2 separate regions of the Homo sapiens genome follow, and region 2 is linked to region 1. The links come from fine-mapping of genetic effects on gene expression. A gene starts in region 1. The other region holds a variant in brackets. All regions are shown on one strand. Distances are between the middles of the regions. Region 1 holds the start of HOXA9 (homeobox A9). Region 2 overlaps SKAP2 (src kinase associated phosphoprotein 2).

Evidence for each region. PIP is the estimated chance that this variant, and not a neighbour inherited with it, causes the effect.
Region 2: its variant is the best candidate, but not a certain one, in a credible set for the expression of HOXA9 in whole blood (TOPMed, PIP 0.53).

The regions. Positions count from the first base shown.
Region 1 is chr7:27,162,858-27,168,237 of GRCh38, forward strand. HOXA9 (homeobox A9) reads right to left here and starts at 2,680. Exons shown (of 2, transcript NM_152739.4): 1 at 2,021-2,680; 2 at 1-984. The coding sequence starts at 2,600. The coding sequence ends at 746. It overlaps HOXA10-HOXA9 (HOXA10-HOXA9 readthrough), which reads right to left. Exons shown (of 3, transcript NM_001433944.1): 2 at 2,021-2,110; 3 at 1-984. The coding sequence ends at 746. RefSeq lists enhancers at 1,216-2,093, 2,094-2,970, 3,819-4,537.
Region 2 is chr7:26,840,516-26,845,895 of GRCh38, forward strand. SKAP2 (src kinase associated phosphoprotein 2) reads right to left here. Exons shown (of 13, transcript NM_003930.5): 4 at 3,515-3,622. All of the region lies in intron 2 of LOC124901606 (a long non-coding RNA gene), which reads left to right. Among named protein-coding and RNA genes, the nearest start is that of SKAP2, 21 kb to the right of the region's middle. The variant A/G (reference allele first, on the strand shown) is at 3,025.

The DNA of each region.
Region 1 (5,380 bases):
GCCCGCATTTTTAAGGTGGAGAAAATGATGAATCTATGCATCCCCGAGAACACTTAAAATTTTTTTTTATTTCACTGGGAAATTCTTACAGCTACTTTACAATCATAGGTTAACAGCCTAGTTATACAGAAGACATATTCCACTACAGAGCTATACTCTATGCAACTGTTTTTTTCCCCTCATAAACAACCTGAGTTCAAATTGAATTCTATCTTCCACAATCACAATGGGTGCATCACCCAGTACACAGAAGTTTGAATCACAAAACATAATTACCACAATAAAACACAGTGTTCAAGTATCTTGGCAGAGCAATCTGCCGCACAAACTGCAAATTAAATTAACTACACAGACTAAAAACTATACAGCCTACCATCAACAGTTGTGCATTATAAAAAGGTAGTTTCTTTCCTTTTGTTTTAAGTCAGGAACAGGTAGATTTTTAAAAATATATATACAAGCTAACACACACAGCTATCAGCACTAATGCCCCCCCCTCAACTTTTCCTTTTTCTTATAGAAAATGGAAAGCTTACAATACCTCCTCCATCAAAGCGGCAGGCCTACGAGCCAGCCTGAACAGGGTTTGCCTTGGAAAAGATGTGGCCTGAGGTTTAGAGCCGCTTTGTGCGGGGATGGTGGAGGCTAGGGTGGGGGTGAGAGAAGGGAGAAGGCGGAAGGGGGACGGACAGTTCTTTCTTTTTCTCTCTAGCTTACCCTTTTTTCTAAATAAGCCCAAATGGCATCACTCGTCTTTTGCTCGGTCTTTGTTGATTTTCTTCATTTTCATCCTGCGGTTCTGGAACCAGATCTTGACCTGCCTCTCGGTGAGGTTGAGCAGTCGAGCCACCTCGTACCTGCGGTCCCTGGTGAGGTACATGTTGAACAGAAACTCTTTCTCCAGTTCCAGGGTCTGGTGTTTTGTATAGGGGCACCGCTTTTTCCGAGTGGAGCGCGCATGAAGCCAGTTGGCTGCTGGGTTATCTGCGGGGAAGAGAAACACTGGGTTTAGGAGCAGAAGACGCACATCCCGCTGGGGCAAATGAGCCTCCTGCATGGGGTCTCTGGCCGAAGTGCAGAACTCTGCTGAACTGGTTAGGAAAGGCAGTCAGGCCTCGGACACAATGGAACCCTGGCAGACAGACGCACAGACAGTCACTTAAAATTGCACGCAGTAAAACTTTGGCTCGCCCTCCCCTCCGAGACCTTCCTTTCTCCTACTCTGTCCTCTTGTCCCCCTTCTCCTTCCTCCCACTCTCAAAACGCTGTATAGAATGAAATTTGGAAACAGGTCTCCTTGCCACGCAGAGGGAAAGCATGCTGCCTTGTGTTCTGTAGCAAGATTAGGATTCCTCTGTCCCGTTCACTGACTTCGTCTTTCTTTCCCAACCTGTCCCTCTACGCCCCCCACTCCTTATTTAACCTTCCTGGAAGGCCTTCGGAGCTGGGCAAGCCGTCAGGGCGCCCTAAGGCCGCTGATCACGTCTGTGGCTTATTTGAATAATCTGTCATGGGGACCCTTGTGGCCCGGGTCGCCCGCAGCCTCATCTTGGCAGGATTTACGCCGCCACTGGCCGAAGGCAAGAAGTGGAAGGAATCGGCCGTCTCCCCCAGCGTCCCAGCTCCGGCTGCCCTGGCTGCCGCCGCTCACGGACAATCTAGTTGTACAAAAGGCTCTCTGGGCTGCACTGCTTTCGAAGAACGGCCCAAAGTATCTCGGTCCTGGGCCTGGGCAGCCAAGGAGAGGGGCGGCCAGTCTTGGCTCGTCCCGAAGTGCCCGCCCCGCCCCCTCTCGCTGCAGCAGCCGCCTCCTCTCCCGTAGCCCTGCGGGCCGCTCTTCACTGCTCTCCAGACTTGGGGCCCTATCTGAGGCGTCCCAAACACCAACTTCTGGCTCCTGGCCCCAACTCGAGAGGCTTCCAGCGAGGACGAAGGCAGGCTCGAGAGAAACCTGGCGGGCCAGCAGATCCGGGAGGCCGGCGTGGAGGCGGCGGCGGATTTGAAGGGAGGAGACACTTACTGGGATCGATGGGGGGCTTGTCTCCGCCGCTCTCATTCTCAGCATTGTTTTCAGAGAAGGCGCCTTCGCTGGGTTGTTTTTCTCTATCAACTGGAGGAGAACCACAAGCATAGTCAGTCAGGGACAAAGTGTGAGTGTCAAGCGTGGGACAGTCACCCCTTCTGGCCGACAGCGGTTCAGGTTTAATGCCATAAGGCCGGCTGGAGGGCAAGCCCGCGAAGGAGAGCGCACCGGGCGTGGGCTCCAGCCAGGAGCGCATGTACCTGCCGTCCGGCGCCGCCGCCGCCACGGGCGCCTGGGGGTGCACGTAGGGGTGGTGGTGATGGTGGTGGTACACCGCAGCGGGTACAGCGTTGGCGCCCGCCGCGTGCACTGGGTTCCACGAGGCGCCAAACACCGTCGCCTTGGACTGGAAGCTGCACGGGCTGAAGTCGGGGTGCTCGGCCAGCGTCGCCGCCTGCCGGGGAGGCTGGCCCAGGGTCCCCGGCGCATAGCGGCCAACGCTCAGCTCATCCGCGGCGTCGGCGCCCAGCAGGAACGAGTCCACGTAGTAGTTGCCCAGGGCCCCAGTGGTGGCCATCACCGTGCCCAGCGCCTGGCCCGCCCGGCCCGACCCACGGAAATTATGAAACTGCAGATTTCATGTAACAACTTGGTGGCACCGGGGGGGAAGTACAGTCACCTAATAAGTTGCCGGCGCCCGCGCCCCCATTGGCCGTGCGCGTCACGTGCCCGTCCAGCAGAACAATAACGCGTAAATCACTCCGCACGCTATTAATGGTCCGATGTTTTGCAGTCATAATTTTTATAGCAAAAGCCATATGTTTTTATGTAAAGGGATCGTGCCGCTCTACGATGGGGTTTGTTTTAATTGTGGCCAACGACGATTAAAAGATCAAATCTAGCCTTGTCTCTGTACTCTCCCGTCTCCCCCCCCATACACACACTTCTTAAGCGGACTATTTTATATCACAATTAATCACGCCATCAAGAAGGCGCGGGTCCCGCGTGCGAGTGCGGCCAGCGGAGCCCCTCACATAAAATTAGACAATAATTGAAGCCATAAAAAAGCAGCCAAATCGCATTGTCGCTCTACTGTATTTAAATCTATATTTATGATATTTCATAAGGAGTTATTGTTTCAGAAGCCACACAGGCTGGCGGGAAGTCGGAAACGACCAACAGATTCGTTTGCCTCGCCGTGGCTCCCAGCTGTAAAAATTTACGAGGACTTGGAAAGGTTAGACTGTTGTGTTTGGTTGGCGAGCTCCCTGTAAATAATCCCTGCGGTCCCCGGGAGAGGCGAGTTTACCCGCGGCCGCCCTCGAAAAGTCAAATTCAACGCAGGATCCGTCCCAAACGGAGCCGCCGCCGGCCCTACCAGGGCACTCCAGGCAGGGACCGGCCGCTCAGGGAGTACCGCGGGTGTAGGTCCCCACAGCTACCCGCCTGGAGCGAGGGGCGCCCGGGCAACCCTTAAATTCGCCTTTGCTACGAGGACCCCACGGAGGAGCTGGCCAGGAGGGAGCGGCCAGCCGCCACCAGGGCGAAGGTTTTGAGGGCCTGGTTGGTTGTGCGGCGCGCTCGGTCCCCGGCCCTCGACCCCACGCACACGCGCGCCCAGCCCGCCTTTCTCATCAGCTGGCAATCAGGATTCCCAGGCGCAGGCGGCTGGCGACCCAGCCCTGTGCTCCAGCCTCAGAGGCTCTAACCATGAGCGCTGCAAGCCTGGTTGCGCTCCGTGAATCCCAGCTGGGGAAAAAACTACAAGTGGCATGAATGGAAGGCAAGTTCGGTTTGGGAAAAGGCAGCCTCGCCTAAGAGACCCCGCAGCTCCGGAACCTGGGAGGCCCGCACCGATGTGGCCTGTCCCGGGGCCGCGTGAGCCTTTCAGGGCTCCTTCCTCCCTTTCCAGCTGCTACTCCGGGCCTCGCCTTGGTTACCTACGGGGCCCGGAGACTCGGCGGAGAGGTACAAGGCCCAAAGAGAGGCAGCCACAGCTCAAGGCCAGGGCTGGAAATTAGAACGGGGAGGGGTAAAAGGGCATCGACTCCAGTCCCATTCCTGGGCCTGGCCACGTTGGGGAAGTTTATTTCTCACCCGTTGGGGGTAAATTAAAAGGTCGCCGCCACTCCGTTAATTGGAAGGAAACTCCCCCTGCCCCCAATTCCTAACAGAAAGCAGCGACTCCTAGAACAGGGGTAATCAAATTCACGTGTGGATACTGTGCCTGCAACAGTGTGTTTTTCATTAGCCCACTTCCCTGGCGGCGAGGCTGGCGGCCTCGGGCGCTTCCATCTCTCTCTCTCTCTTTTGCCTTCATCCTCACCAGCAGTTCCAGTAATCCCCCCCTCAAACACCCTGACACACTTCCGGCTGGGACTCCCAAATACCAGCGAGGCTGCCAAGCCGCGCGGATACCGACTGGGTGCCCCTTCCTGCACCCGCGCCTGGAAGAGGGAAGTGGCCGACACAATGAACTCCGAAATGGCCCCGTCCTGTCCGCCTCATCTCCCTCCCCCTAATATTTTCCTTGCCCCATAAATTCCTCTAGGTCATGCCCACCCCCACCACAGTCCACCGTGTCCTAAATACCCCGCAGTCCGCCAGGCCTCTGAGATTTTCATTTAAAAAATTAACCCTGGAGGAAACCCTGGCTCCCAATTTTAAGTGTCTGCAAATGGGCTGGGCATGTCTGGATGCCTTTTCCACGTTTTATGCCTGAGAAGACACTGATTATTTCAGTATTTTTTAAGTAAAAAAGCTGTTCCTTTAAACAGCCTTAGCCCCAAAATAAGAGAGTTACTGAACAATTAGCAGGCGTTGAGTGTTAAGCAGATGTTACTGGTGCCTAGAAAGCGGAGAAAAATCAGAAAACCAAATATTGTCTTCCTTCAGCCCAAAGGTTTGGAGCCAGAATAGTCTGACTTTTTTGTCTGCTTTTATTTTCGAAGTGAAAGAGATTGCGTATGCATAAAGAAATAATAAATGAGTATAATTTAAAGCGGCCCCTTCTCGACTGAGATTTCTGAAACTGTGATCTCTGAAATAAATCCAATGCCCTGGTCCAGAAAATGGCAGGGAGGAGTTGAAGGGAATGGGGTGTGTGGTCCTTTCAGACAGCAGGTCGGTGGCTGTGCAACGAAAGAGTTCCTGGGCCTCCAGTCCAGGCAGGGAAAGGAAACAGCTTTGTGGGCACGAATCTGTAACTGTGTGTGTTGGGAGTAGGGAGAGATAGTTTGTTTTCTGTTTTCTGTAGGGAAAATGGTCAGACTGGCTCCCATCTGTAGACTACAATTTGGAACGATGACTCAAGTTTATATCAATGGCTCTGGAATTTGGGATTCTTTTTGCCCATTT
Region 2 (5,380 bases), 320 kb before region 1:
AGTGCCTAAACATTTTAAAGTGTACAGAAAGGGATATTCTTTAAGGTTGTAAATCTCATTATCTCTAACTTTATCTGATTACTGACATGCACCATTTATACTGAAACTCCAATATATCCAGCCACATGATAGCATAAAACTTCTAACAGTGATCTACAATAGTCTAGAAACTATTACGATTTTTTTGTTTTCCAGAAAAAAATCAAGCATAAAGCTAATAAAATGAAACTTCTAATAAGTATACTTTCTTCTAAATAGAATATCAAAATGAAACTCTAACAGCAGTCATGCAATCATTTATAAATAAAATACAGACTCTTATTCTTTTTCCTAAAAAGGTATTTGGCATGTCATTCTCTCTTTTTTTGCTATTGGTCTCAAAATGTAGTTCTTCTCAAAAAATATAAAACATAAGAAGCATTTCCAAAGAGGGAAAAGAAAAATTTACAAAGTACAATATTTTTAAGCTACAAGCTATACAAAAATCTGTCACCATCTATGTTACAATTCTAGTAATCAATAAGGTACTTTTTTCCAATGTACAACTCAAAAATCAATTATATCAACTCTTTTGTATAGAGAAGCAGCACACCTTTCAGGCAACTAGTATTAATGAGTAGACATGACTATAGAATCTCCATCTGTTTCTCTGACAAAGCTGTGGCTACTCTAGTCTCTCATTGAAATTCCATTAATCTGGTGTACCAAGGTCCAATGCGAAAATCAAAACTGCATCTAACCCTTTATCAGCTCACAATAACCTACAAGTGAACTCTGCCTGTTAGCATGCAGCAAGTTATGATTTTGCTATCAATCAGGCAGTTGGCCAATAAAAAAAAAAAGGCAGGCTGAAAACAACGTACCTGGCAGGGTTTGGAAACTTTCTTTTTGTTGTTTTCATCCCCATTCAATTTCTATACGGTGCCTGGACCTTGTAAGATTATGCATTATTCTCCTTGGCTATGATTTAATTGCTACCAGCAATCAAGTCGAAGCATCACTGAAGTGTGCTTGAATTTCATTAGAAGATATAACTTATGCTGCTTTCCTACAGTACCTAATAAACCATAAAGAAACCAAAACACATATGGCTTGGGGGAATAACTGGAAAATTAGGTGGCCATTTGGGAACTGAGTGAACTTTTGAACCAGAGGAATAGAGAAAAATAAATATTAAAGCAAAAGACAGACTTAGAATGCACATAGAGATGTGCAGGTTTGACCTTTTCAGTACCTTGAAAATTACATTAGCATTATGAAAAATACATATCATGTTTAGAGTTTATAACCCATTGAAGTTTAGATACTTTCTTAGTGCCTTCCATAAGGTAAAAGTCAAAAGGACAAAACAACAATCTGATTTGACAAAAGGCCTTTTGGTGACCTGTGCTAATTCGGTTATGCTTATTGTTAAATGCATTATCTTTTTTATAATTAATATATTATTGGACTGAGGTCACATAATGAAGCAAATTTATTCATCAAAGGAAAGAGAACACACACAAAATCTAAGTTGAAGAGAGAAAAACTGATACATTGAGATGATATTTTAGAGTGAATATTAAATGTCCAAGTGGTAGTTTAAAAATTAATTTTAATAATGATATTCTTAGAAGAAAATGTGAAAGTATCAAAAACAGTATTATTTATATATCAAAAATGAGTAATACTACAGGTAAAAGTTTTAATCTGCTCAAGAATTGCTTAAACACTAATGAATAGGCACTATTAACAAAAAAACTTGATGTTACATATAAATGTTATTAAATAATATTTAAAATCAATAAAATAACCTTTTAACAACAATCTTTTAGTGTATTTCCTGAATATTTTGTTATAAAAATATATGATAAATTATTTACTATTAAAAAGAAAACAATAATGTAAATGCACTATAATTTAATAATAATTTACTTTTTCTAACAAGCTACTGGAAGATTTCTGGCTCTCATAGATATTTAATTGTTGAATTTCTTTTTAGGTTGCAAATTTTTCAAGAATACACATAGCACTCCCCTGTATATCAAAATGTTTATGCTATTTTAAGAAACTATGTCTATATAGTCTATGAATATATTCTCCGTATGTCTCTCTTAGTATAAATATTCTGTCTGTGTATGTGTATACACACATACATTCATATATACCAACATTTTACAGAGAAATAAAGCAATTGTAATGTGTCTGAAAAATAGTACCACTTAAATAATAATTCATTGTTTTGCCTGAAAATATTATTTCTTTGATTATAAAACATTTTCTAGTAGAAATGCTTTTGAAGATGAGGTTGGAAAGGGTAATGCTCTGTTTTGGTGAAGAGAAAAGAAATGCTTATCTCTTTAAAAGATAGAAAGTGAATATAACAGCAAAAAAAAACCCTCCCTTTAAAAATAGAAATTAAATGTTTGCCGAAGCATAAAATTCAACATAAAATAGATATGACTATTATTGCTACACTTTGTACAAAGTTCTGGATATAAAAAAAGATTGTTTTGTACTGAATCACTGGTTAGAATGTTTATCACTTATGCATGTACTTGACTTATCCCCGTTCTGCAACAGACATAATTTTATACCTCATAAAAGCAATTTATGTTTCCAAAGGGAATAATCTGGATAACATAAAATGTGGAGTGCTCTGTTGCAGGAAGCATATTTTCATTCAGCAATTGTATTTAGAGATGGAACTGCACAGTTTGATCATCACATAGTGGCAGAAGGTATTATTCATTTCTATGTCTATGTGAAACTTTGAGTGCTACAAATTAATATGCATGACTAATTTATTGATACACATTCTTAATTTATAACTATATATTACCCTTATAAGGTTTCTATAATGCAGATGTACTCAATGGCTATAACAGAGAAAGTACATACTACACTAAAAACAAGTTTCATAACTTTGGCAACATTCAATAGCTTTTAGAAATTACTAAGAGATAAATTTATTACTAATTCAGTTAATACAAACACTGCAATATTACTGCATAATATGGTCCACTTTTAAGTGACAATATAAAA[A/G]TGAAAATGCGCATTAAAAGAAGCATTTGATAAAAACCTGTCTCAGTGTGAAGAGGCAATGTCGGAAAATTAACTTAATATTTTATTAACTCATTTTGTATAAAGTTTTCAGAAAAAAATAGATCAAAAATCTTTTTTATTATTTATAAAATAAATAATACAGTAAGCCTTCAAGTAGCATAATAAAATTAAGCAAGAATCTGATAATATTAAATTAACTATCAAACTGTTACTAATAATATTCATATGATGATACAGGCACTCTCTCAAAAATTTTAGTAAAGAAAATTTCCAAGAAAAAGAACCAACTACATACTTAGGAAAACCTCACCAGAACCACTAGAGAGAGCTCTTCTGTTCCTTAAAAGGTTTTGGTAAAGGTAAGTTAACCGAAGCCTCTATGTTCATCTGCTTTCTCATAAAACTACCACCCATATATATAGCATTGTTTTGTGTGAGTGTCAGAGTTACGTGGGAAAATGTCACATACCATCAGAGGGGGCTTCATCGTCTTTATCATATCGTTCTGAGGCTAATGAAATAGTGTCTGGAGGCCCAGCAAAAGGGTCATCATATTCTTCCCCATCTTCTGCATCACCTGTTAAAAAAAAAAAAAATCAGAGAACTGCCTTTTATACTTTAGCCATTTAAAGTAATGTTACTTAATGTTAATGTTACTTTGTTAGAAGAGGTAAATTCTACTAGTAAATTGAGTCATTGTCATGGAAAAACAAAGAAAACTTTTAAAACTAGGTAAAAACAGGTCTTATTTTATTTTATAGCCATTGTAACTTAGATATAGTAAGAATTTTTGAAGGTCATTATACAATTGCTTATTTATGACACAAAAGGATATAGTCCAAAATTATGATGATCTCTACAAAGAAGAATCCAAAAAGTAGAAGCAGGGTAAAACAGAGTGTATATCCAAACGAACAAAACCAAGATAACAGTAACAACAACAACAACAAAACCCAGGAAGCACAACAGAAAACATAATACAAGTAATTCCATTTACCTATTCAATAATTTGAAAAATTATGATGAGAAACTAATAATTTGAAGCTGTATGAATATTTTGTATAAAATCATTTTATACATTTTTATACATTTTATACATTTTTAGAGAGGATTAAAAATAATCTGTTGCATTTTCCAGAGCACAAATCTTTTAAAATCTTTTATAGAAAAAACTGCTTTAAAATTTTCATAATCTTTTTAAATTCAAGTAAGGGTAATTTACAAACTAGACACTTTCAGTTTCATTCAATGGTATGTTATTACTTTTTAATGTTCTGGCCAGTTTCCAACTTGATTTTCAAATCCTAGGTTCGTTGGTCGATTTTTTGATTGACTTTTCTATTTTAGGCTAATTAATCTCCACAAGATCTTGTGGTTTCAATTTTTTCCATATAATCATTTAAAATAATTTTTTTAAAAAAACACAAATATTTGCTAGCCCAGTTACACATAAGCATTCATTTGTCACCCGGATTTCACAACAAAGAAAAAAGTATGCTTAATTCTACATTAAGTATTTGACTGTTGAATTCAAGTTACCTGACAGAAAAACAGCCACCTCAGGGATTACCCTTAAAGCACAAGGAAAATCCCCATAGGAACCGCAGAGTGCCTATAGTATTACTTTTGAACCACAGTTCCTGGCAGATTCAGATTAATGCTACTTGTCTCTCCAAAAGGGTATCTTTGTCCTCTGACACCCATTTGATGGGTGTCACCCTATTTGTTACCACATTTTTGGTAGAGAAAATAGCCTCTCTCAAGACAACACTGTCCAAATAATTTTTTAAAAATACATATTCCTATTTCCTTATAATTTTGCCACTTTGTGAGCAACTGTCATCAGAGACATCTCTCATTAAGATGATAAGGGCAGAACATAGAGATGGCTATATTGTCATCCTTAGGGATTCTACTACTAGGTACAGTAAATATGGTGATGTTACTCCCACAGTTAAAATTCTAAGGAACACATAAATACTACTCATTCTTTGGAACTTAATTTCTCTTTCTTTTCAGATGTTCAAAGTCCTTTTCAGAACACTCAATGATCCCTTACAATATTTCTCTTATGAAAAGAAGAGTGCTAGGCTGGTGGCAGTGCTCACGCCTGTAATCTCAGCTACTCAGCATGCTTGAGGCCAGAAGATCGCTTGTGGCCAGGAATTAGACACCAGGCTGGGCAACATAGCAAGACCACATCTCTAAATAAAAATAAAAACAATTAGCCGGGTGTGGTGGCCTGCACCTATAGTCACATCTGTGGGAGGCTGAGGTAAGAGGACCGCTTGAGCCCAGGAGTTTGAGGCTGCAGTGAGCTATAACTGCACCACTG